Linked DNA regions of Homo sapiens. The protein of the gene in region 3 purifies or fractionates together with the protein of the main gene of each other region. This does not show direct contact. Each region holds a gene or a part of one and is shown on either strand. Other genes may lie near its edges. The genes, in order: SASS6, MPHOSPH9, BFSP1, TRIM9, EPS15L1, CCDC92 and SPDL1.

Region 1 (3,500 bases), on a different chromosome or scaffold from region 3:
CTCAGCTTCCCAAGTAGCTGGGACTATAGGCGCCCACCACCACGCCCAGCTAATTTTTTGTATTTTTAGTAGAAACAGATTTCACCCTGTTAGCCAGGATGGTCTTGATCTCCTGACCTCATGATCTGCCTGCCTCGGCCTCCCAAAGTGTTGGGATTACAGGCGTGAGCCACCGCACCCAGCCAAGAGCACACTTCTTTATAAGTCTTGACTGGATATTGAAATCTTTCAATGCTAACTAAAGTAATACCAAATATACTGAAAAACTTGAAAACACATAACGTAAAACATTTAGGAGACTTGAAGAAGAGAGAATTCAGGGTTTAGGCTTAAGCCTAAACTGAATTCTATCAGAAAAAGAAAAGAAAGTAAAAAAGAAAAAAGTCCTATTAGCAGGCTTGTCACCTTTAGATTCTACAAGAAACTGGTTATGAGATATAAACTTTCTAGCTCCCAGGACCAGATTTTTTTCTCTTTTGAGACAAGACCTCACTCTGTTGCCGAGGCTGGAGTGCAGTGGTGGGATCATGGCTCATGGCAGCCTTGACCTCCTGGGCTCAGGCAATCCTCCCACCTCGGCCTCTCAAAGTGCCGGGATTATAGCTGTGAGCCACTGTGCCCAGCCCTGCTTTTTTTTTTTTTTTTTTAACCTGAGAAAAAAGGGAGGCTGGGCACGATGGCTCATGCCTGTAATCCCAGCACTTTGGGTGGGAGGCTGAGGTGGGTGGATCACCTGAGGTCAGGAGTTCAAGAGGTCAGCCTGGGCAACGTGGTGAAACCCTGTCTCTACTAAAAATACATAATTCAGTTGGGTGCAATGGTGCATGCCTATAATCCCAGCTACTCGGGAGACTGAGGCAGGGGAACTGCTTGAACCCAGGAGGTGGAGGTTGCCATGAGCCAAGATCGCACCACTGTACTCCAGCCTGGGCAACAGAGTGAGACTCTATCTCAAACAGAAAAAAGGCAGAATAGGAAAAGCAGCTTCTTACATTCAGAGGTGGTTTGGTACTATCTGATAGTTAGGCCTAGGTGCTGCTAGGAGCTTACCTAGCATCCGCACATAGGCCTGGGGCTCTCCTGTTGAACACAACAATTTCATGGAATATTAACATCAGGCAAGGTTACTCTGTGACTCTGTCAATACAAAAACAAGACTGTTTCATAATCATGCCTGAATACAGACAAAAATATGAACATTGCTAAATCACAGATATGGCCCATAAGCATCCTCATATCCTGGCTAACATGAATGGCTGCTGCTGCTTTAATTACAGCTTTGACCTTAATACATTCCTCTTGCTTTATTAGATAGGATTTATTCAGATACCCAGTCATACATTTATCCCCATTTCCCAGTAGCTTCCAATCCACAGCAAAGCACCACTTAAACTTTTTCTTAAATCACCTAACATGTGCCTAAATCCAATAAATAAGTCCCTTTTAATACCCACTTTTGGAGATACCCATGTTTGTTCATGGTGTGCAGTTTCCCTTGTTGCAAGGAGCAATAAATCTAGCTCGTATATCTATACATGGGTTCCTGGTGGTCCTTGGCTACAGGACATTGGCAGAAGGTTTAAAATTCAGATTCCTAATTGAATTTTTAACCTAATCTACTCTGGTAAGTCAGAGTACGGGATGTCTAAAGAAGGGGAAAGATTGCTGTTAAATTGGAGAAGGGTGCAGAAAGAAGTGCCTGGGGCTGAATTACAAACTTAAAAAAGATTTTTTGTCCGGCTTAAAATTTGAATGACTGATGATAGCTGTGTGAAAGGTGTTTTTTTGTGTGCATCCATTAGTGTGCACAAATGCTTCTCAAGATTTCTGTTACAACTGGTCTCAGTATAAAAATAAACTTTTTCATAACGTTGGTTAATGTGTGGTGCCAGTATATTGAAAATTAGTGGCAAAACCAATTACTGTCTCAATTAGTCCATTTAAGAACACTGATCTTGTTTTTATGCAGTCTGACAGAAAATTAGTTTTATTTTATCTCTGATTGGCCTATTGATCTCCAGACTCCCCCATTCCCCCCTTTTTTAGGAGACTTAGAGTGAAACAAGTTGGTTCAGAAGCTTGGCTTTAACTTAGTACAAAGGCAGGCCCAGTAGTTTGTTTTATCCAAGCTTGCACACCTACCTTGAAAAGCCCTCTAGTTCAAAGTTATCCTAGCCCCATGGTAGATAATAAAGCAGAGTTGTGTGGCATGATAAACAAGACTGGCGTCTGAGATAGTGCTCTCTTAATTATTAGTTATTATAACAGATGCTAATGCCACCTGATCAACAAATACTATTTAGAATTAATTTATCATCTTTAATCATCTTTATGTTTTTATTTTTAGGTTGATGGTAGACTGACTTACCCAACCTGTGGGATTGGTTATCCTGTCTCCTCTGCATTTGCATTCCAGAATACCTTCCCTCATTCGATATCTGCCAAAAATACCAGCCACCCTGGTTCAGGAACAAAGGTAGCCAAATTAACTAATACTTGTTCTGGGAAAAAATATAGCAACCTATTAGCATACAAACATTTCACATCTTTTAAAAGTTCATTTATTCTTTGGTCAGTTGTTAAGTAGTAGGTAGTGTATTAGATAAATACATTACTGAATATCTAGTATCTATGTGTACAGGAAATATATGCACTATATATTTCTTGAGTCACTGTAATTTCTAAAATCTTGACATCAGTCTGTTTAAACCTCACTTATTTCTACTCAACCTCTCCTTTTTTTTTTTTTTTTTTTGAGACAGTCTTGCTCGGTTGTCCAGGCTGGAGTGCAGTGGTGTAATCTCAGCTCACTGCAGCCTCTGCCTCCTGGGTTCAGTGATTCTCGTGCCTCAGCCTCCTGAGTAGCTGGGATTACAGGCATGTGCCACTACACCCAGCTAATTTTTTTGCAATTTTAGTAGAGGTGAGGTTTCGCCATGTTGGCCAGGCTGGTCTCGAACTCCTGGCCTCAAGTGATCCGCCTGCCTTGGCCTCCCAAGGTGCTGGGATTGCAGGCCTGAGCCACCACGCCCGGCCAGCCTTTCCGTTTTTATTCATTCTTCTACTTGTGTCTCCTACGCTCTCAGGCCTGGCTAGGATTTCTGACTTCATACTGTTGGAGTCTGAGCTATGATTTGGAGTCCATTGCTAGAATTTAAAGGTCTGGTAGGGCAGGCTTAAATCAAATTCTAAAATTTAGTTCTGACAGCATTATCTCAGATAAGATATGACTAGCAATCCCCCCAACCCTTGATATATTTGTTAAGGCTTTCTTCTACCTACTTCTTTTTCCTCATTTTTATTATTATCTTAGATTTATGTATTTTTTATGTATTATAATTTTGTTTTCACAATAGTTTAATCCACCCAGACCAGTCACTGCTTTTATTTTCATTGCTAACTTCAGATCCAGGTTTATTTTTTCTTAAATAATGAGACAAATAAACATTTATGAAAAAATATTGTATAAAAGATAAAATTGAGGACTTTGAAACTGGTAT
Region 2 (3,500 bases), on a different chromosome or scaffold from region 3:
GGCCAACATGGTAAAACCCCATCTCTACTAAAAACCCAAAAATTAGCTGGGCGTGGTGGCATGCACTTGTAATCCCAGCTGCTCAGGTGGCTGAGGCAGGAGAATCACTTGAACCCAGGAGGTGGAGATTGCAGTGAGCCAAGATGGTGCCACTGCACTCCAGCCTGGGTGACAGAGCGAGACTCCGCCTCAGCAAAAACAACAACAGAAAAAAGTGGAATTAAAAATTCCACTTTTAAAAAATTCTGGCTGGCTTGAGCTGGGCATCATAGTTTACACCTGTAATCCTTGTACTTTGGGAGGCTGAGGTGAGAGGATCACTTGAGCCCGGGAGGTCACACCATTGCACTCTAGCCTGTGTGACAGAGTGAGACCCTGTCTCAAAAAGGGAAAAAAAAAATGCTGGTTAGTGTTTTGTGAAATTAAATGGATTGTGCCTACTATTTCATATGTAGTAGGTCCTCAGCTATTAATTTCTTCCCCTTTTCCCAGAATTGGTGTTGATTTTTCATTTGTTACACCTCCATTCATTTTCATTTGTTATGCGATCCATTTCCACCATAGTTATGAGCAACTTAATTTGCTGTATTCTTTTTTTTTTTTTTTTTGAGACAGTTTCACTCTGTCGCCAGGTTGGAGTGCAGTGGTGCGATCTTGGCTCACTGCAACCTCTGCCTCCCGGGTTCAAGTGATTATCCTGCCTCAGCCTCCCGAGTAGCTGGGTCTACAGGCACATGCCACCACGCCCAGCTAATTTTTGTATTTTTAGTAGAGACGGGGTTTCACCATGTTGGTCAGGATGGTCTCGATCTCTTGACCTCGTGATTTGCTTGCCTTGGCCTCCCAAGTGCTGGAATTACAGGCATGCACCACTGCGCCCGGCCAATTTGCTGGATTTTCTTTGAGTAAGAAAGGTACATTTAAAAAAAAAATTTTTTTTTTTTTTTTTTTTTGAGACGGAGTCTCAGTCTGTCACTTAGGCTGGAGTGCAGTGGTTCCAGGTTCAAGTGATTCTCCTGCCTCAGCCTCCTGAGTAGCTGGGATTATGGGCATGCGCCACCATGCCTGGCTAATTTTTGTATTTTTAGTAGAGAGGGAGTTTCGTGATGTTGGCCAGGCTGGTGATCCACCCACATCAGCCTCCCAGAGTGCTGGGAATACAGGCGTGAGCCACTGCGCTGGCCCATTTTTTTTAAATTTAAGAGCAAAGAAATAAAACTATTCAGTAAATGTACATCAATGTACCTATTTCACCTCTGTATTTTTTTTTTTCTTTTTTTTTTTTCTTTGAGGCGGAGTCTCGCTCTGTTGCCCAGGCTGGAGTGCAGTGGCGTGATCTCAGCTCACTGCAATCTCTGCCTCCCAGGTTCAAATGATTCTCCCACCTCAACCTTCCAAGTAGCTGGGATTACAGGCACCTGCCATCATGCCCAGCTATGTTTTGTATTTGTGTAGAGACAGGGTTTCACCATGTTGGCCAGGCTGCTCTCGAACTCCTGACCTCAGGTGATCCGCCCGCCTTGGCCTCCCAAAGTGCTGGAATTACAGGCATGAGCTAGTGCACCCGGCCTTCATTTCTGTATTTTGATCAGGTAATGAAAGAGTACCTGGGGAAAAGGAGAGATACTATTAAAGTAACCAAGAGACATAAAAATGAATGACATATACAGACAGACAGATGGGGCAATGTACTTGTAAGCATCAGAGTCTCAGTGACGGAAACCAATGTTCCGTACTTCATGAAAGGAACAAAAAGACACAGGTCAACACAGAGAAATGAAGTATGAGGGGGGTAAGATTGTAGGGGGCAAGGCAGGCTTAGTAGGCTTTGCAATTGCAGGGCTCACAGTGTTATCTGATCTTGAACATCAGTAAGTGGATACTGCATTTTGTTGACTCTACGGTATTGTCAACTTTAAGGTTTCCCATTTCATGTTCTACCAAGAAAAATTTATAAATTAGACTGATACAATGCTTTTTTTTTTTTTTTTTTTTAACCACTTTAGAATTTATATTTTATTCTTATGGAAAGAGTCTTTAGACTTAAACATAGGTTTTATTATGTATCAGTAACTTTTTTTTTTTTTTATTAGAGAGAGGATTTTTGCTGTGTTGCCTAGGCTGGTCTCAAACTCCTGGGCTCAAGTGATTCCCCTGCTTTGGTCTCCCACAGTGCTGGGATTACAGCTGTGAGTCACTGTGCCTGGCCTATTATATAACTTTTTTTTTGAGACGGAGTCTTGCTCTGTTGCCAGGCTGGAGTGCAGTGGTGTGATCTCGGCTCACTGCAACCTCCATCTCCTGGGTTCAAGCGATTCTCCTGCTTCAGCCTCCTGAGTAGCTAGGACTACAGGCATGCACTACCATACCCAGCTAATTTTTTTGTGTTTTTAGTAGAGACGAGGTTCCACCATGTTGGCCAAGATGGTCTCGATCTCCTGACCTTGTGACCCACCTGCCTCAGCCTCCCAAAGTGCTGGGATTACAGGTGTGAGCCACTGTGCCTGGCTTATTATATAACTCTTATGCATACTTTAAAAAGGAAAACATAAGTGAAATAAAAGTGGCTAAAATTCTTTCCTTCTCAGAGTGTTATACTCTTCTCTTCTCATCTCTTCTCTTCTCTTCTCCTCTCCTCTCCTCTCTTCTCTTCTCCTCTTCCTCTCTTTCTCTCTTTCTTTCTTCACGGTCTCACTCTGTTGCCGAGGCTGGAGTATAGCAGCTTCATCATAGATAACTGCAGACTCAACCTCCTGGGCTCAGGCGATCCTCTTGCCTCAGCCTCCTGAGTAGCTGGGACTACAGTCATGTGCAACCACACCTGGCTCATTTTTTTTTTGTTTGTTTGTTTTTAGTAGAGGCAAGGTCTCTCTATGTTGCCCAAGCTGGTCTCTCAAACTCCTGGACTCAAGCAATCCTCCTGCCTCAGCCTCCCAAAGTGCTGGGATTACAAATGTGAACCACTATGCCTGGCCATTTCTCTCTCTTCACCTTGGTGTTAGTTTCTGTGTTTTCCCACGTTATCTTCCTCTAGCCCACCAAGAGCATCAGCGATTCTGCATTTCTTTAAAAAGAATAGAAAGGCCTTTCTGCTTTTTACCTGTCTTAGTAGCATGTAGGACTAGCCCGCTTTGGACTCCCATGTGGAGTATGTTGCTAAACGTGTCTGATTCACCGTTCTCTTAAATATTGGTCCTCAGGAGCTTCATTGTAGTGTGTAGGTTTGTCTTCCAAGCTGCTGATACCTATTTGGCCAATTTTGAGCTCATGAGCAGGGAATGACAGTCTGTCACAACCACAACTTGGCCCAAAGCAATAGCAATTATAAAATGCCATTAATTACAAGAGGCATCCCTACTTTAGAGATGTTAACATGACAAGAACATAAAAGTGGTGAAAAGTGGTACTTTTCTATTCCCATGAGCTTTGAGTAGAATAACCCCAACTATTCCCCCAGACCACCAGGCTGTGGCCATAGCTGGAGTAATGCTACTCTTCAC
Region 3 (4,201 bases):
TGACAAAATATTTACATTCAGAAACATTCTCATCAAGTGGTATTAATTTCTTTTCTTAAATTTACTTTTAAATTTGTCAAAGTCTAGCTATTAATTATATATATATATTTTAAAAGCTTGTCCTTAAAATCCAACTATTAGTTCCATAATAAAAATTAAAATGGAACATAATGGCACAAAATCCTTTATTATTCTCGAATTGAGGGTTGGCCAATTAATGGCGGATCACTTGAGCCCAGGAGTTTGAGTCCTGCCTGGGCAACATAGCAAGACCCCATCTCATTTTTTATTAAAATTTTTTTGTATTACATTTTATGTTAAAAAAAGAAAAAGAAAAAAGCAATCTTTTTTTCTTTTTCTTTTTTTTTTTTTTTTTGAGACGGAGTCTCACTCTGTTACCCAGGCTGGAGTGCAGTGGGGCGATCTCGGCTCACTGCAGCCTCCGCCTCCCAGGTTCCAGCGATTCTCCTGCCTCAGCCTCCCAGGTAGCTGGGATTACTGGCACACGCCACCACGCCTGGCTAATTTTGGTATTTTTAGTAGAGACGGAGTTTCACCATGTTGGCCAGGCTGGCCTCGAACTCAGGTGATCCGCCCGCCTCGGCCTCCCAAAGTGCTAGGATTACAGGCGTGAACCACCTATTACAGGCCCATGGGTGGGGCTCTATTTGTTTTTTCCATTCAAGAAAGCATGTCAAACTCCATCAGAGCATGGGTGAATTATAAAAACATAACCGTGCATGTCTCCTAAGTTATTGTAGGCTTTTATGCACGGGTATTACTAAGAAATTACTTGCGCCACACCTCACTACTTAATGGAGACATGCCATTTTATTTTGCATCCATGGTTAAGAACCTCTGCTATACAGAAGGGTCCTAAACGTCATGTTATGATTATGAAAAAGAATTGCATGCATAACCGAGCAATTGGAAATAAAAAAGACCAAAAGAAAAAAAAAAGAATTGCTTAAGTAATCAGAAAAAAAAAATGGCATTGTTAAAGAGTTCTACAATTGAGTTTGAATGCAAGAGGAGACAAAGTGACAAGCCCTGGGCTCTTGAGCTAGTCCAAGTTTAAAGAGTTCGCTTGGGGATTCCTTCACAGTCCCCAGTGGAACCAGTGAAAAGAGCGTCATGGCTCCCGTGTCCCCTGACCCTCCATTCAATCAAAAGCAACAGGCCTGAACAATCACGGAACAAAAACCTCATTGCCCAGCGTAACCTTCCAACCCCGGAGCTGTATGGGCCGCTAATCCGCCGCACAAAGCGGGCCGCTGCTCTTTTCTTCTCCCGCGCCCGGGCCCAGCGTGGCGCCCAACTGCTGATCGGCTCTGGAACGTCCCAGCAGCGCGCCGGGGGCCTCCGGTGTTTATTTAGCGGGCTGCGGGCTGCGCCGGGGGCCTCCTGGAGAGCCGGCTCGGCGCCGCCCGCGCGCCCGCGCCAGAGCAGCCATGTACCGGCGCAGCTACGTCTTCCAGACCCGCAAGGAGCAGTACGAGCACGCCGACGAGGCTTCGCGCGCCGCCGAGCCCGAGCGCCCGGCCGACGAGGGCTGGGCTGGGGCAACGAGCCTGGCGGCGCTGCAGGGGCTCGGCGAGCGCGTGGCCGCCCACGTCCAGCGGGCCCGCGCCCTCGAGCAGCGCCATGCCGGGCTCCGGAGGCAGCTGGATGCCTTCCAGCGCCTGGGCGAGCTGGCCGGGCCCGAGGACGCCCTCGCCCGCCAAGTCGAGAGCAACCGCCAGCGCGTCCGGGACCTGGAGGCCGAGCGCGCCCGGCTGGAGCGCCAGGGCACCGAGGCGCAGCGCGCGCTCGACGAGTTCCGAAGCAAGTAAGCGGCGGCCATCGGGGGAAACCGAGGCAGGGCGTGGGCCGTCCCGGCGGCGCGGGGCTGGGAGCACGCTGCTACCATGCAGGGGTGGAGCGCCGTCTCTGGTCCCCTGTCGATCGATGACCTCATCCCTGCACGCAGGTGGCACATTTCCTTAAGCTAAGACTGGCTTCTGTTTTGATGGCACGTCACAGTTTACACGAAGTTGTATCATTTACTTTTCATCTATTTTTAAATTTTGGTATAACTTACATGTTATAAAATGCACAGATTTGAAGTGCATAGTTCAGTGAGTTTTGACAAATGTATATACCCGTGTTACCACGAAAACAAGTGAGATATTTCCACTACCCCTGAAAGTTCCCTCCTCCCCTTTCCCAGTCAGTCCCCTTTGCCCCAGACCGGAGGCACCCATTCTGATTTCTATCACCATAGATTGACTTTGCCTATTCTACAGTTCCACAAAAATAGAATCTTACGGGATGTACTCTATTGTCTGGCTTCTTTTGCTCAGCACATTGGTTTTGAGATGTACCGATGTTATTTAATCCTTACATACTTATCTTTACTGCACCTGTTTTACAGATGAGGCGACTGAGGCTCAGAAAATGTAGGGATTTGGCCAGCAAGGCCCCTCAGCTGGCGAACTGCTGTCCCGGGACTGGAATTTAGGTCCTGGGCATGCTAAGTCTAATTGCCTTCATGGCATAGCAGCTGACACCTGGGAATTATGCTCAGTATGTGTCCTCTAGTGTCTTGATACTCAAAGTGCGGTCCATGGACCAGCAGTATTGGCATCACCCGGGAGTTTGCTAGAAATACAGATTCTTGGGCCCACCCTAGAACTCCAGAATCAGAATCTGCATTTTAACAAGCTCCCCAGGTGATTTTCAGTTTAAAAAGTTAAATGTTGACTAAGCAGCACTGGTCCAGGGCATGGTCTCCCCTCCCACAGATTGAGTAATGTGTTAAAATCACATAGGAGCTGTTAAAAAAAAGATGCAATTTGTCAACATTTTTTCAAGTTATAAATGTGTGTGCTCTTTGACTCAGAAGGCTACTTTGAGGAATGTATTATAGGATGCACTCCAGCAGGTGTGCAATGGCATGCCTCCACCAATACTGCAGCAGGTACACTCCAGCAGGTGTGCAATGGCATGGCTGCAAAGATACTCACTGCAACAGGTACACTCCAGCAGGTGTGCAATGGCATGCCTGCAAAGATACTCACTGCAGCAGGATCTGCAATAAGCCTGGAACCAAATAAATGCCCATTAAAAGGAGACAGGTGCTTCCTCCATGTAATGGAATACTATGCAGTGGAAAAAAGTATGTTATTGTCATGTAGTCTTTTAAAAGGGGAGGAGAGTAGAGTTTTTTTTTTGCTTGCATAAAAAGAATTTCAGGACACACACAAAGACACACACACACAGACACACACACAGGCACATGCCCCAATGACACTGGCTACCTGAGGGAGATAAGTGAGTAGGAACTGAGCAATTGGGAGACAGAGGTGGGAAGGAGACTTTTAACAGAACATCTTTTTATATCTTTAAAAAAATTATTTAACTATGGGCTGGGTGCAGTGGCTCACGCCTGTAATCCCAGCACTTTGGGAGGCCAAGGCAGGCAGAACACTTGAGGTCAGGAGTTCCAGACCAGCCTGGCCAACATTGTGAAACCCTGTGTCTACTTTAAAAAATACAAAAATTAGCTGGGTGTAGTGGCACACGCCTGTAGTTCCAGCTACCCGGGAGGCTGAGGCAGGAGAATCACTTGAATCTGGGAGGCGGAGGCTGCAGTGAGCTGAGATTGCGCCACTGCACTCCAGCCTGGGTGACAGAGTGAGACTCTGTCTCACACACACACACACACACACACACACTTATTTAACCATGTAAGATATTCATCCATTTAAAATTACATAAATGAATTTTAAAATACAGATGTCTAGGCTCTACCCTGGACCTCAAGAGGGGCCCAGAAGCTTAAACATTTTTAATGAGTGCCACTGGTCATTCCAGCCAGATTTGGGAACCCTTGGCATAGGGTAGTCAGAGGATTTCTGTAAACCTGCTCTATGTTTGAGTTCCAGTTTCTCAATCTGAATCTTGGGCAGGTTATTCATTGTTGTGTTCTGAACACATTTATCAAATCACATTTATTGATTCGATTCCTGTCAGCTCTTTTGTCTTGGGGTTTAATCTGTAGAAACAGACTTGGAGCTGGTAGAAGGGACCTGAAAATCCACTTGTTACAGAACTTCATGGGGAAACTGAGCCTGGGAGAGGGCCTGTGGGTGGCAGAACTTGAACCTGGGTTTTCTCACCCTGGGCCTATGCTCTTTCGGGAACACTGTATCTTGAGATA
Region 4 (3,500 bases), on a different chromosome or scaffold from region 3:
TGTTGAATTGCCCTACAAAGTATCCTTGGAACTAAAAAATTAATCACTCTGTCAGGAAAAAGAATTTAGAGCCACAAGGTAATTAGGATGGGTAAACCACAACATTATTATTTTTTTTATGACAAGCCTATCCTTGATCTATTAAGACCAAAAGAAACCTTTAAATCTCTGTCAAGCCCCATGTCAATTTGAAATGTTAAATCATTTGTTTTATTGGCAATAGAAATTATGAGTAGACAGACACTGGTGCTGCCTGGGTTGAGATTTAGATATCTACCTGCCACAAAAGAATGTTAAAACCCTTGAAACATGACATAAGTAGGCTAGAAGACCATTTATTCTCTGATCTTTTGCACATTTTTTCCAAAACAGTAAGGACACATAATTTTTGTTCAGTCAATATGAGGATTACTAAACTGCCAAGAAAAAAAATAAGACAGAAGGATGACAGATTTTAACATTCACTTGTCATCTGTTAGATGAACAACAAACATTACTCCCCCACCTTATTTACTTAATAAGGAAGTTAATGTGTTAGCAGCCAGTTTTCTCATATAGTTTATGTTTTAGTTAATGGTACTTCTATCTCCACAAAAGCCCATGGGCCAGAATTTCTATGCCCTGCAAAAATAGGACAGCAAAGAACTATACTAACTAGGTTTCCAAAATTGGGCAGTTAGTTATCAACACAGGTTATTACTAGACCTGAAAAGTTGTCATTCATATTCTATCATATTAGTCATTTCTACTGATAAAGCAAGTCCTGCAGATAAGTATTTCCCACAGGCATAAATCATCATCTTACACACTCAAGATATAATAAAATGGCTGCAGTTTATTTTTAAAGTGGTATTAAAAACATCTGGTTGAAATTCACTAGTTTTCAACTGGCCAGATTAAAATGTTTTTCAGATATTTTTGGTCTTCAAAACTCCATGAAAAATAATAACACATGAATAATAATAATAATAATAATGGTCTTATAAGTCAAATATTTGGTAGCAGTTTTTATTTAGTGCCAGTACTTAACTATATTCCTTTATTCAACGTACTTGTTAAAAGAATTATAACACCAAAAAAGTGATTTTGTAGATACTTTAAAATGGGCAATAGAAACCACTACTATTACTTTGTGATTTTAAGCAGTTCACATTCCTAAATCCTGATATTATCCTTGAATTCCTGGGGTTTCAATAGTCACTGAATCAGGGCTGGGTGCACTGGATTATGCCTGTAATCCCAGCACTTTGGGAGGCCGAGGCGGTCAGATCTCTTGCGGCCAGGATTTAAGACCAGCCTGACCAGCATGTTGAGACTCCATTTCTACTGAAAAATCAAAAATTAGCTGGGCATGGTGGTGCATGCCTTGTAGTTCCAGCTACTTGGGTGGCTGAGGCAGGAGAATTGCTTGAACCTGGGAGGCAGAGGTTGCAGTGAGCCAGGATCTCACCACTGCACTGTAGCCTGGGTGACGATGCAAGACTGTCTCAAAATAAAAAAATGAAGTCACTGAATCAGTAACATATTTGTAACAATTATTCTGTGTTCATGCTACTGAGCAAAGATTTTCTTTTCCTTTCTATTCTAAACACTATTCATTCTTAATCTTGTCTCAAATGTTATTTTTCTCTTACCTTTGTTTTTATAAATGAAAATTTGCAATTTAAACAATATTTTAAAATAAACTGTCAGTTAATATGCCTTCAATTCTAAAATATCCTGGAGAAAAATATCTGCTTAGCTTTATGGTGGCATCTCATTAAATATTTATGTAGCAAAATGTGTTATATAATGCCACTAAAATGATATTCAGTTAACTATATGTCAGCAGTAAACACAATATAGTCTATATATTCCTGTGGTAAATGTAACAGGCAGCATATGTTCATGTTTTTACATTTCTTTTGATTTACTTCTAGTACAATTAGAACATTCTGTGTGCCATGTAAACATTTTTACAGATATTAAGGAAAATGTTACAGAGAAGACAGTTATTCCTCTTTGTACCCAGGCATAATGGAAAGAACTAGATAACAGGAGATCCAGGTTATAGAACCAATGCTGCCACTTACTTGCAGGAAACTTTTTGCAAGTATCATCACCTGTCTGTACTTCCCACCTACAAAGATATAAGGGAGTTAAAATTACAATTGTGAAAGGATTTTGATAAGGTAAATTAAATGTTTATAATTTACTAATTTCAGTTCAACACAACCATAAACATTCATGTCAAACAGAGTCAATGTCTCACCAGTCAACAATTACTGCGTAAAAATCTCATCCCCCAACTTGGGGTACTTTTCTGGATCCTTTTCAGAGCATAGGGTACAGTCCAAAGCTGCTCTGAAAGGTGGCCTAAAAGAGTGAGACTCTTCCTCATGGGTCCAGAGAGAATATTCAGTTGAATTAAGCTCAAGAAATAAGAATACTATACAAAGATTTATATATTAAACAAAAGTATTCTGTTTTTCTCTAAGTAAGCTGAAATAGCTGATAAGGCTCCGTTTTTTTCAGATTCTCCAATAAAGATATTGTTACCAGTTTGAAGTAGCAGAAATTGTTTCTCCTGTATATGCCATGAAAAGATGCTATTAATTGGAGTTTCAGGTCAAATCACAGTTTGCATAAAGTAAGAGACAATTATCACAGCCATCTGTTCTTGTGTAATGAAAATAATGTACAGGGAACATTTGTCCTTACCATCAGTATGATAAATTGCACTTTCCTCACCTAAACAAGTTGGTGGACTTTTCAAAGTGTATATACACATACAACTTAACTTTGGCCTACAGAAGGATAGAAGAACCTATAACAAGATAAATGTTTAAGAATCAAATAGTTATAAATAAATATCATTTGTTTATCAGTTTTATCAGGGATTATTCATTGAAAGGATCAGAAACCCACTTAGGTGATCTCAGAGGATTTCATGGGAAGTGAAATAAAATCAACTCACAAGGAGAATGGAACTATAAAGCTAGAAACTAAGTTCACTCTCAGCATCAGTCAGGTTGGACTATGCTCCAGTAACAAATCTTCGAATCTCAGTGAATTATAATGGCATCTAATTTCTTACTTATTCATGTCAGTGTCCACTGAGAGTCTTTTTTTTTTTTTCTTTGCTTTAGCTTGTTTGTGTTGGTTTCCTGCCACTTGCAACCAAGAAGTCCTGACTTACAAAAGCATATGAATTAACACATGTAAATACTTTAAGATTCTAATTTTTATTCATCCTAGATATTGTCTTTAGAATATTGTGTTTAGAAGGCTGCATTCTGATGCCATAAATACAAATAGAGGGGCGGTTTTTGATTCAATGAAGCAGAAATCATATCATATTCAATGTTATCTACCCATTCACCACTAGGTAGCTTTTATTAGCCTTTTGGTTATTTTCTTCAGTTATTTTTATTGTGAGGTTTTTCACAAAGAGGCCGAAGAGATTTTTTTTTTTTTTTACCAACTCGAAATTACTCCATGTATGTAGTGATGACACTTTT
Region 5 (3,500 bases), on a different chromosome or scaffold from region 3:
TCCCAGCTGCATGAAAGCCGCCAGGAGGCCCACAGGAGCCTGGAGCAGTATGACCAGGTGCTCGATGGAGCCCATGGTGCCAGCCTGACCGACCTGGCCAACCTGAGCGAAGGCGTCTCCCTGGCAGAGAGGGGCAGTTTTGGAGCCATGGTAAAGGTTGAATAAACGTATTACAGTATGGGGCTCTGGTCCCCTGGTGTGACAGCAGAACATCCCACCCGCCAGATCTGTTCATGGCCAACGTTGGTTCCAGCCAAGTGCAGGCGGCTGTCTGTTGTTTTTGCTGCCACTTTGCGCGTTCACACCAGGCCTTGCAGCCTGGCACAGGTGGCCATGCTGAATCCTGGCTTCCAGAACAAAGTCCAAGATAGGCCTGGATCCTTTCAGAACCTGTTTTGAATGCCCTCCATCTCTGCGGAAGTATTTACATTGGGCCAACCACCCAAGTTCAGAGGGCTTCTCAAACTTAACCAAAATTGGATCAGTTTCTGCTCATTGTGGAAACCCCACATTCTACTAATCAGGGGGCAGGGGACATCTGAGGGGCATGTGTCTATGTGTATGTGTGTTTCCACAAGGAACACCTTGAAAAGCAAATGTGTTGCTAAAGATGAGGAAGTAATGGCAAGCAGCGCCCCAGGGTGTTGCTCTTTCAAGTAAGAATTGGCCTCTCCTGAAATTTTGGTTATGTTTAAAAACCTCTGCACTTTACTCTGACCTCATGACCCTGGAGTTGTGATCAGGCCTGGGGCAGGGGACTGTCGGCCCCTTACATTTTTGAGAGCTCTTGAGCCCCTGATACCAAGACAGGTGTGACCTTTTCCTTAGGTGGTCACATCCCCCCTGTTCACACCAGAGTCTGCCCCTGCAGCCTCGAACCTGGGGACATGTAGTTTCCCATTTCGTCTTGGTGCTGTTCCGGGAGCGGATGGGCCGGGCCGCGCATGTCTGGATGTTTCCTTGGTGCTCTGCTGCCTCCAGCAGCTCTCTCCGTGCTGCCACCCTCTCTCCCAGGGCTCCTCCCTGGAGCCCTTCTGCTCCTGGGCCTCTGTACGTCATGGATTCCTCTTCCTCCCTGGAATAAGAGTGAGCGCTCGTGCTCTCTAAACACCACACTTGCCTCTTTATGTTCAATGCTTGATGTGTTTCTTTTCTCAGCAGCCAAGTCCTCAGTCCCAAGGATTTATGGGGAAGCACACGCGTCCCCTGGGCTGCTGGGAAGGCACTGCTGGCGAGCTCATCTGTCTCTTGTGTCTGGCCCCCGCTGGGTGCACCGCCTCCCTCTTTCCTCCCATACTCTCTTTTCTCGTGGACTCGTAATGAGGTGGTTTCCATAGCCGCCCCCGGGCCCGTCATCATCAGCTTTATCGTCTAAATTTAAACGATGAGCATTCATCCTTCATGAGTTACGAGAAGCCAGAACTCCTCGCTTTGCTCCCTGGCTGTTCTTGGCGTGTGTGTTTCCGTCTCACAACCCGGCTCCTACTTTCCCCATCTGGCATTGTCCCCTGGCACCGCTTTTGGCTTGTCCTGCTCAGTCTTCGTTCAGGGAACAGCTTCCTCTTAAATGTCCCTTTTGCAGGTTTTTAGAAACCGGTTTTCTTGGATAAAAGTTGGCAGTGAAGTGGCAGTTTGCAAGTGGCCAGTGATTCCCCCAACTCCAAAGACAGATTTTTACCTTTCTGGTTATTTTTGTTCATCTTTTGGGCAGGGCAAAGGTTACCTGAGACACAATTACTTTGGGAATGTAGATTAAGATACGTTACATGGAAACTTGCAACTGGCATCCGAAAGAAAAACTGTTTTTATCCTGTTGTACAAATACAGTTTTTAAAGCATTTTTCTGGCTTGTTTCTATTTCTTAATAAATACTTGGAAGAGAGATTTTTGTTTACTCCTGAACACTTCAAGACTGCTTCAGAGCCGAGAGAGAGGTGTCTTAGTTCTCCCTTGTGGGTCGAAGTTGGGGGTTTTAGGTCCCTGAGAATAGTGTATCCACAGTGGTACATCTGGAACTTCCTATGTTTGGACAGTTCTACTCAGGTTACTAAATTCCATGTGAAGCTCACGCAGTGTGACTTTATCTCAAAAGTCAGGGGTTTTTTTTTTTTTTTGTTTTTGTTTTTTTTTTTTTGAGACGGAGTCTCGCTCTGTCTCCCAGACTGGAGTGCAGTGGCACAATCTCAGCTCACTGCAACCTCTGCCTCCCGGGTCCAAGTGATTCTCCTGCCTCAGCCTCCCGAGTAGCAGAGATTACAGGCACGTGCCACCATGCCCAGCTAATTTTTGTATTTTTAGTAGAGACGAGGTTTCACAGTGTTGCCCAGGCTGGTCTTGAACTCCTGACCTCAGGCAATCTGCCCGCCTCGACCTCCCCAAATGCTGGGATTACAGGCGTGAGCCACCTCACCCGCCAAAGTCAGGGTTCTTAAAGCCATATTTATTTCTTGTCTATCATCTGATTATGAGAATATTGACCTCTTGCTCACCATCCAATCAACTTATGGAGAGAAGCTAATAAATCATCCCAGACTTAGGCCTTACTGAGGACAGATTAAGAAAGGTTGATTGATCTGTCACATCCAGACCCAGTGGCATGCTGGAGCCAGTTTTTATTGACTTTCCAGAACCGATTATTAAATAGGAACTGGCCGGGCACAATGGCTCACACCTGTAATCCCAGTCCTTTGGGAGGCTGAGGTGGGAGGATTGCTTGAGGCCAGCTGCGTGCCACTGCACTCCAGCCTGGGTGACACAGCGAGACTCAATCTCTAAAAAAAAAAAAAAAACCCCAAAAAGCAAAAAACAGGAACTTGTGAGCTAGTTGCTTGGAAACTTGAAATCAACCATGATGAGACTGTTTACACCACAGGAATTGGCAGAAGCTCTAAACCAGGGCTTTTTTCTGAGAGAACTGATTCCCAGCACACCCCTGCTGCCCAGCACTCCTCTAAAGGGCGGGAATGTCACAGAAGCTTCTTCAGCCCCCTTTCAGAGTTGCCGTGTGTATTTCCTAAGAAGGGTACAACTTCACACTGGTTGCTGAACTTGTTCAAGATATTACATCTCTGCCAAGGGCCGTGTCATTCATCCTGGCCCTTGTCTGCTGTACTCGTGTCCCCCAAGTTGGCAGATGGGTCTGTTCTCCTTAGTAGGTGGTCTGCAAGGGGTAGAGTTGATGGTATCTTTGTAACAGGGAAATCTCGTTTCCCACTCTGATTCTGTGCAATGGAATCAAAACCACTATTAGTTACCCTGACCTCCTGAATCCTGCTGGGGTCTCAGGCTTCCCCTTGGAAGGGGAAGGAGTGATTGTGGCTTCAGGCCAATGACTCCTGAGAAAGTGATTGCAGGCCTGACTGTCAGTGCAGGGGGCTTGCAGCCAGCATTCCCAGAACCTCAGTCTCTTCTCTGCCATTGTTCACTGTTACTTGGCAGTCTTCCAAGTGACGACTGAAAACACTGAAAAAAAAAAACCTTATAAATAAATGCCAATTAAA
Region 6 (3,500 bases), on a different chromosome or scaffold from region 3:
TTACAGCACAGAGACGGTTTCGGGGACAGAAACATCCTTTCTCACTCCTGCCGGAATGCTGCTCACGGCTCCACTGAGGAAAGCCCTGCTTGATGGAAACTCAACTCTGCCATCATCTGCAGCCCAGTGCGACGGCAGTCAAAGGCCAGGGAGAGCTATGCTTTGTTTTATAGAAACATGCCTAGAAATGGTCGCCTTAAGTTATTTAACCCACTCCCTATTGTCGGGTTTTGAGTTTGTTTCTAGTCTTTTCCAACTGCAAACTGCACTGTAGTGACCATTCTCACAGCTACCTCTTTTCACACAAAAGTAATAATTTCCCTTTGGTAGATTTCTAAAAATAAATTGCTAGTTCAGAGAGATGACCAATTCCAAGGCTTCTGATCAGCTCTGCCCAATCACTGCCCGTGGTGAGGTGCCCCCCGAGACTGTACTTGCCGTGTCCTGGGGCCACTGCCCTCTCCTGCCAGTTTTTGTCCCCAACTGAAAGGGCCTCTTGTTTCTCTTTTTCTTGGTCCTTTTTAGGATGTATCATTGTTCATTCCCCTTCGTGAGCTCCGTCGTGTTTTATTTCCTTCTCTGCGTTCTCAGGTTGCCCTCGGAGTGGAGTCTGTGGCTTTCCACCGGAGCAGCGCCCAGGAAGTGTTTTCGTGTGATGAAAGTGTATGTCTGAAGTTCGTTATGAACTCGTCCTAGCTCCAGAGCTAGTGTGCATGCATGTCACTGGTCGTACAGATAATTGATGAGCAATTGGTGTCGTCTGAAGCAGTGACAGCCTGGGTGTGTCAGTGTCTCCAAAACGGTTCCACTGTGGCATCCTACAAATGGGCTGCGTCCTGGGAGCCATTGAGAAGTTGTACCTCCTTTACGGAGGGTTCTCTGGAATAGCAAATTAGGGAAAATGCATTCTGAGGTTCTGTATTTACAATAATAATTTATAAGCAAATAACTCACATTTCATCCTCAGTATTTTTCAGTGCTGTACAAGCGTCTTGAATTACTCTGGTAGCTTTTCCAGAAAGACCCATGACTTCACCACATTTCTCGAGTTACGATGAAGGTAGAGTCTGGGGCCCTGAGTGAGCATCAGATGCTGGAAGCTGGGGCTGGGAGGGGCCAAGCATTGGGGACAGACTCCAGACACCTGCACCACCCCCTGGCCCCATGAGATACGTTCTCAGACCTTCCCAAGAAGGATCTGTGGCTCCTCTCAGTGCTGTGAAGTGCAGGGGGCTTCCCTCTGGAATTCAGCCCATCTCTCCCTCCTACTTTGGCTGGCTCCAGATGCCATTTAGAGGAAATGTTTGGCCCATTTCCCAGGTGCCAGCTTTTCCCATGAGGAAGCTGTCAGTGCTTCCTGGTCAGGGAAATCTTTTGGGCGTGATTTGGTCAGTCACAGTCTGTTGGGGTGAGGTGGTGCGTGGAGAGGACAGGATTTGGAACCAAGGGTCCCTGGATTAGAATCCCTGCTCCATACCTCACTGGCTGTGTGACCCCAGGCTCGCGAATCTGCCTCTCTTGATCTGTTTCCTCATGAGTAAAGGGAAATGACTTTGTACTCTGGAGTGGGCCTCACTCATTCATGTGCCAGGCATCGTGCTAGGTGCTAGGGCACACCCCAAGGCGTTCGGGAAGCAGAGGCTGCCGTCCCTGGCCTGGGGCCTCCCTGCAGTGATGGGAATGTAGCCCTGGTGCCCCCACACCCTGCCCTTCAGGAGCCGTGGTTTCCTTCTGCTCTCTCCTGGGAGGCGCACACCCCTCTGCACCCAGAGCCAAGGAGGGCAGGCAGCCCTGGGACCCTCTTCAGGCACCGCAGCCAGGGTCTGTGTTACCCACAGGTCCTCTGGATGTCAGCATGGCAGCCACAAACCTGGAGAACCAGCTGCACAGCGCACAGAAGAACCTCCTGTTCCTTCAGCGGGAGCATGCCAGCACGCTCAAGGGGCTGCACTCCGAGATCAGGCGGCTGCAGCAGCACTGCACAGGTACATCGGGGAGCAGGCCCGGGCAGGCGGGGGGCGGCTATGGGGCACGGCAGAGCCCAGCGTCAGAATGTGCTAGGCCTGCCCTGCCCCCAGCTCCCATCATCGTTGCAGGAGTCCATCTGAATGCCTTATATCATCCTCATTGCATAATCAAGATGCACTAAGCATAAAGCTGCAAAGCCTTTTCTTGGCATACTGAGGACTTAAGAGATTAAAATACAATGGTTAGAATCTCCAATGTGTTTTGGAACTGATAACCAAGATATAGCCTGTGTGATACATAGAGCCAGCTGCTGGATTGTTTGGTTTGGATGGTTGGGATATGCTGTGGGGGAATGGGGAAGGGAGTTTGGGGGAACAGAGGGTGCCCTCTGACCCCAGGGAGCACAGTGGCCGCAGATGTTTTCTGCTGCTCTCATGCTCACCTCTCCTGCTGCCAAACCCTGCTCTGTCTGGGTAGGACTCGCTGGCTAATCGTGGGAATCGGTTTTGCATTTTCAAAGCTGATGAAGATTTTGAAATGTACAGTAAAAGAATTAATGTGTAACATTTCCCTTTTAGATTTAACATATGAGCTGACAGTCAAAAGTTCGGAACAGACAGGTAAGAACTCCTCCCCAGAAGTAAATGACAGTAGGTTTCCCTTTGTGGTACGTGTTGGTGCCGTTTTCACTAGTCACACACTTAGGAGAAAATGCTCTTGCTGGGAAGAGTTATGCGTGTGGCCTGAGCTCTCTAAGAGAAGATGAGAAGGATGTTTGGATCCCTCCGTGTTGCAAGTGGTTATTAGTGGGCAGGGGGATGAGTGATTTTGTTTTCTTTTGAATGACACATATATTTGGAATGCCTATTATATGTTTTTCTGATTTTCCTACAATGAACATGTGTTCCTTGTGTAATCAGGACATAAAAATAGACGTGAGTTAAACCCAAAAGGAGGAGTAACAGCAGCAGCAGCATTGGGCAGAACCGCCCCCGCTCCTCCGTGTCGCTGCCGCCTAGCATGGGCCTGGCACAGAGCAGCAGCTTGCTAAATGCTGGCGGGCGAGTGGTCACATTACTAGACAGCTCCCTGAGGATCTGGGGCTTTCTCTGGACTACAGCCCCAGAACCCTCCCCAAACCAGAATCCTCCAGGACCTCAGGAAACCCCAAAGGGCAGCTGCCTGCTGGCCGCCAGAGAAGAGACAGAAACCCAGGCCTTCCCAGGGCCCTCTGTGCCTGCTGCAAAGAGCCTGCTCCCTAAAACAGGGTGGGTGTTTGGAAAGTGCTGAATCCATGTTTGTGCAGAGACACCTGTTGGAAACGGGTTTATCACGTCGGGAAGGCAATGGATGGCTCAGCAAGGCTAGTTTACTTTCTGCAGAAAGGGTGCAACTCGCCAGCAGTCTTACCACGAGAGCACACTCAAACAAAGGAGACGAGGACATTTATAATCTTCATAACCTGATGCAATTGCCCTATGACTGTGTCCAGTTTCCATTGACTGGAATGGGACCTCACATTCTAAGCTTGA
Region 7 (3,500 bases), on a different chromosome or scaffold from region 3:
CCCTAGTCTGAGCCATTTCACATGGTCTCTGCTTCCAGCCTTGTTCCCCTTCTAAACTAGTCAACATAGCAGCCAAAATGATTCTTTTAAATTATATCAGATCCTCTACTCCAGACTTTGGAATGACTTCCCATGTCACCCAAAGTAGGAGCCAAAGTCCTTATAATGGCCTGATTTGCCCACTCTCTACTATCTCTTAGCCAAATTTCACTCCCTGGGCTTCTTCCTGCCTTAAGGATTCCCCTCTTGCTGGAACATTCTTCTTCTAAATAGCTGCCTGGCTGATTCTCTCATCTTCTGCCTCCTGGTTACATCACCTGTCCCTTCTTCCCAGATTCTTATTCTGTTCTATTTTTTCTCATCTCCCCTTTCTAATTTATTAATATTCTGTTACTTACTGTTTATCTTCCCCTCCTGGAATGTAAGTTTCATGAGGGAGGAGCTTTTTTTTCGTCCATTTTGTTCCCTAATGAATCTGAACTGCCCAGAATGGAACCTAGTATATAAGGCATTCAAGAAATACTCGTTCAGTGAATGACTACATTGACTTGAGACATGGGGGAACATCTTGCAATGACCTGGTGCCCTTTGAAGGCAAAGGTGAGTTTGAGTCTCGCTTAGGAGGCTGGGACCAAATAGTAAAGGATAATTAGTAAGGTTGATTAAAGTGGAATGTTTCTATATATAATGTTTAAGTCTTTGTTTATAAATCTAGAATGAAAGCAACATCCTTTAATTCTTATGGATATGGTTTCTATTTTTGCATACTTTTATGAATAACTAGAAAAATACTAGTGAATCTCTTTCCAGGAAAGCAGATTTAATATATTCAGGAAGTTAACACTGTTGTGAAAAATTACAGACATGATATTTCTTACTTTACCTTATGAGCCTTATTCACAGCTGCCTTTTTATATTTTATGTGTTTATAGTACCCAGACCTTCCTTTTCTGGTGGTATTATTGTTATTATCATTATTATTTCTCAAGACAGTGTCTTGCTCTGTCAGTGCCATGATCATAACTCACTGAAGCCTCTAACTCCATCAATTTTCCTTCCTTAGCCTCCCAAGTAGCTAGGACTACGGGGGCTTGCCACCATCCCCACCTTATTTCTATTGATTGATTGATTGAGATGGAGTCTTGCTATGTTGTTCAGGCTGGTCTCGAATTCCTGGCCTCAAGTAATCCTCCCCAGTTGCTGGGATTACAAGCATGAGCCACCATACCTGCTACTATGAGGTTTCTTGATTACTTTTTTGTTATTCCCTTAATTTTGATTATATGGATAGTGGTCCAATTATGAGACCAAACTTACCTTAACATATTGGAAGCTTAGCATACAACAACTGAACAGTTTTCTGATGGTGAACTGTTTAGAAGCAAAATTAAATGTATTCTATTCCACTCTTTAATTTTTGATCCCAAATCAGTAACAGAATTGTCAGAACAGTTCTTGCTCTTGGAACAAGAATGCAAATTTGACTACTTATTAGTCAGGAAGAAAATTTTAATGTTTTTATACGACAGTAGTATTGAGTAGATATGTTTCTTCTGTTATTGATATTATTGCATGGAGTTTTTTGTATAAGCTTAAGTAGTTTTATTTCCTCTATTTACAGTTGGCTAAAAAAAAGAAAAGAACATGGAGGCAGATATAATCACAAATCTTCGATGCAGGCTCAAAGAGGCTGAAGAAGAGCGACTAAAAGCTGCACAGTATGGTTTACAACTAGTAGAGAGTCAAAATGAATTACAGAATCAATTGGATAAATGTCGTAATGAAATGATGACCATGACTGAGGTAGGACTCTGGACTCCTCTGTCTGCAAGAGTGTGCTTAGCTATTGAAGATTTGTCCTGTTTAGCAATTAATAGTAGTAGTAGTTTATTCTTTTCTGAAGATTTTAGATCTAGTTCCCGCCCTGCCCCGTCCCTGTTAAAAAAGAATGAACTAAATGAATTCCTGTTATTCTTTCCACCCTAGTGTATTCAGAGTTTGAAAGATCAAGTTATCATTACTCTCTTTGCCACATTTACTACCAGATTTTGCTTTGTCTGCACACTTCCTAGAAGACCTCACTTGTTTTAGACCTCTAAACATCTAAGTGCCCCATGACACTACACCAAGCCCTTAGTTCCCCCATGAAATCTAGGTTTGTGTTCAACTGCCCACTAATAGACTTCTCAAACTTAACACAGACAGAAGAGTGGATTCCCTGTCCGTTAACCAAATATTCTTTTACGATTTTTTTTAGCTTATTTAGTAAATATAATAGCATTCAGTTTCTTGAACACCAAAAATCTTTATATACCAAAGATTTTTGGTATATTTTTGGTTTCTTTATATACCAAAAATCTAGAACTTTTAGTCAATATCTTCCCTTTATTTCTCACATTTCACTCATTAATAAGTTCTAAGAACTAGACTACAAAGCATGTATCTTTGCTACTGGCACTGTAGTCCAGATCACCATCATCACTCCTAGACAAGTATTGTAGCCTTCTGGCCGGGTTGCCTGCTTCCATTGTTGCCATTCATGCCATTCATTCTTCACTCAGCGTCTAAGTGGTCGTGGAATAACACACCAAAGGTCATGCCACAGCCCTGCTAAAAACCATACAACAGCTTCTGATTTTATTTACAACAAAATCTGAGCTCCATCCTTGGGTTTGTAGATCCCTATGTGACCTGACCCCTGCCAAGCTTCTGACCTCACCTCAAACTGCTTTGCCTTGTTCTTGACTATACTGGTCCTCCCTTATGGGCTTTACACCAGCTATTGCCTTTTTTTTTTTTTTGAGTTGTTTACCCCTCACTGCTCTTGGGTTGAGTCCTCAGATTTCAGCTTTCATTTAAATGTCACTTCAGCGGAGAGGTCAGCCCTTACTATGTAATGTAAAGTTGCCCTGATTCACTTTTTTTTTCTTTTTTCTTTTTTTTTTTTGAAACAGGGTCTCACTCTGTCGCCCAGGCTGGAGTGCAGTGGCGCAATCTTGGCTCACTGCATCCTCCACCTCCTGGGTTCAAGAGATTCTCCTACCTCAGCCTTCCGAGTAGCTCGGGGTTACAGATGTGTGCCACCACATCCGGCTAATTTTTGTGTTTTTAGTAGAGATGGGGTTTCACCATGTTGACCAGGCTGGTCTTGAACTCCTGGCTTCACGTAATCTGCCTGCCGAAGTGCTGGGATTACAGGCATGAGCCGTTGTGCCCGGCCCTGATTCCACTCTTAATTATCTGCATTGCTAATTATCTCTAGATTATAAACTCCATGAGAGAGGGAATTTTGTATGCCTTGTTCACTATCCTGAATGCCTGCCACACGATTATTTCTTAAAAGAATGAATGAATAAATCTGGGTAATTTAGCAAATGCTCAGTAACATATTTAAACTTGAATCTCAACATTGTAAATATGGCAGGTAAAAAATATCTGTAGCAGGTAAAAATAACTAGTGATGGCAACCTTTGTGTTTCTACATAGTACTGTTGTAAACC

What was found.
Region 1: the proteins of BFSP1 (region 3) and SASS6 purify together in Homo sapiens (affinity purification with mass spectrometry; one large-scale study listed by BioGRID and IntAct). This does not show direct contact.
Region 2: the proteins of BFSP1 (region 3) and MPHOSPH9 purify together in Homo sapiens (affinity purification with mass spectrometry; one large-scale study listed by BioGRID and IntAct). This does not show direct contact.
Region 4: the proteins of BFSP1 (region 3) and TRIM9 purify together in Homo sapiens (affinity purification with mass spectrometry; one large-scale study listed by BioGRID and IntAct). This does not show direct contact.
Region 5: the proteins of BFSP1 (region 3) and EPS15L1 purify together in Homo sapiens (affinity purification with mass spectrometry; one large-scale study listed by BioGRID and IntAct). This does not show direct contact.
Region 6: the proteins of BFSP1 (region 3) and CCDC92 purify together in Homo sapiens (affinity purification with mass spectrometry; one large-scale study listed by BioGRID and IntAct). This does not show direct contact.
Region 7: the proteins of BFSP1 (region 3) and SPDL1 purify together in Homo sapiens (affinity purification with mass spectrometry; one large-scale study listed by BioGRID and IntAct). This does not show direct contact.

The regions. Positions count from the first base shown.
Region 1 is NC_000001.11:100,101,931-100,105,430, reverse strand, and holds part of SASS6 (spindle assembly abnormal protein 6 homolog), read left to right. Parts: intron 1-2,347; coding exon 2,348-2,476; intron 2,477-3,500.
Region 2 is NC_000012.12:123,205,642-123,209,141, reverse strand, and holds part of MPHOSPH9 (M-phase phosphoprotein 9), read left to right. Parts: intron 1-3,500. UniProt on the Homo sapiens protein: Negatively regulates cilia formation by recruiting the CP110-CEP97 complex (a negative regulator of ciliogenesis) at the distal end of the mother centriole in ciliary cells.
Region 3 is NC_000020.11:17,528,580-17,532,780, reverse strand, and holds the start of BFSP1 (filensin), read left to right. Parts: upstream 1-1,401; 5' UTR 1,402-1,451; coding exon 1,452-1,828; intron 1,829-4,201. UniProt on the Homo sapiens protein: Required for the correct formation of lens intermediate filaments as part of a complex composed of BFSP1, BFSP2 and CRYAA. Involved in altering the calcium regulation of MIP water permeability.
Region 4 is NC_000014.9:51,088,606-51,092,105, reverse strand, and holds part of TRIM9 (E3 ubiquitin-protein ligase TRIM9), read left to right. Parts: intron 1-3,500. UniProt on the Homo sapiens protein: E3 ubiquitin-protein ligase which ubiquitinates itself in cooperation with an E2 enzyme UBE2D2/UBC4 and serves as a targeting signal for proteasomal degradation.
Region 5 is NC_000019.10:16,398,971-16,402,470, reverse strand, and holds part of EPS15L1 (epidermal growth factor receptor substrate 15-like 1), read left to right. Parts: coding exon 1-150; coding exon of another isoform or gene 151-165; exon of another isoform or gene 166-1,882; intron 1,883-3,500.
Region 6 is NC_000012.12:123,941,832-123,945,331, reverse strand, and holds part of CCDC92 (coiled-coil domain-containing protein 92), read left to right. Parts: intron 1-591; exon of another isoform or gene 592-663; intron 664-967; 5' UTR 968-1,026; coding exon 1,027-1,060; intron 1,061-1,838; coding exon 1,839-1,985; intron 1,986-2,546; coding exon 2,547-2,588; intron 2,589-3,500.
Region 7 is NC_000005.10:169,586,773-169,590,272, forward strand, and holds part of SPDL1 (protein Spindly), read left to right. Parts: intron 1-426; exon of another isoform or gene 427-600; intron 601-1,600; exon of another isoform or gene 1,601-1,621; 5' UTR 1,622-1,644; coding exon 1,645-1,803; intron 1,804-1,826; exon of another isoform or gene 1,827-3,500. UniProt on the Homo sapiens protein: Required for the localization of dynein and dynactin to the mitotic kintochore.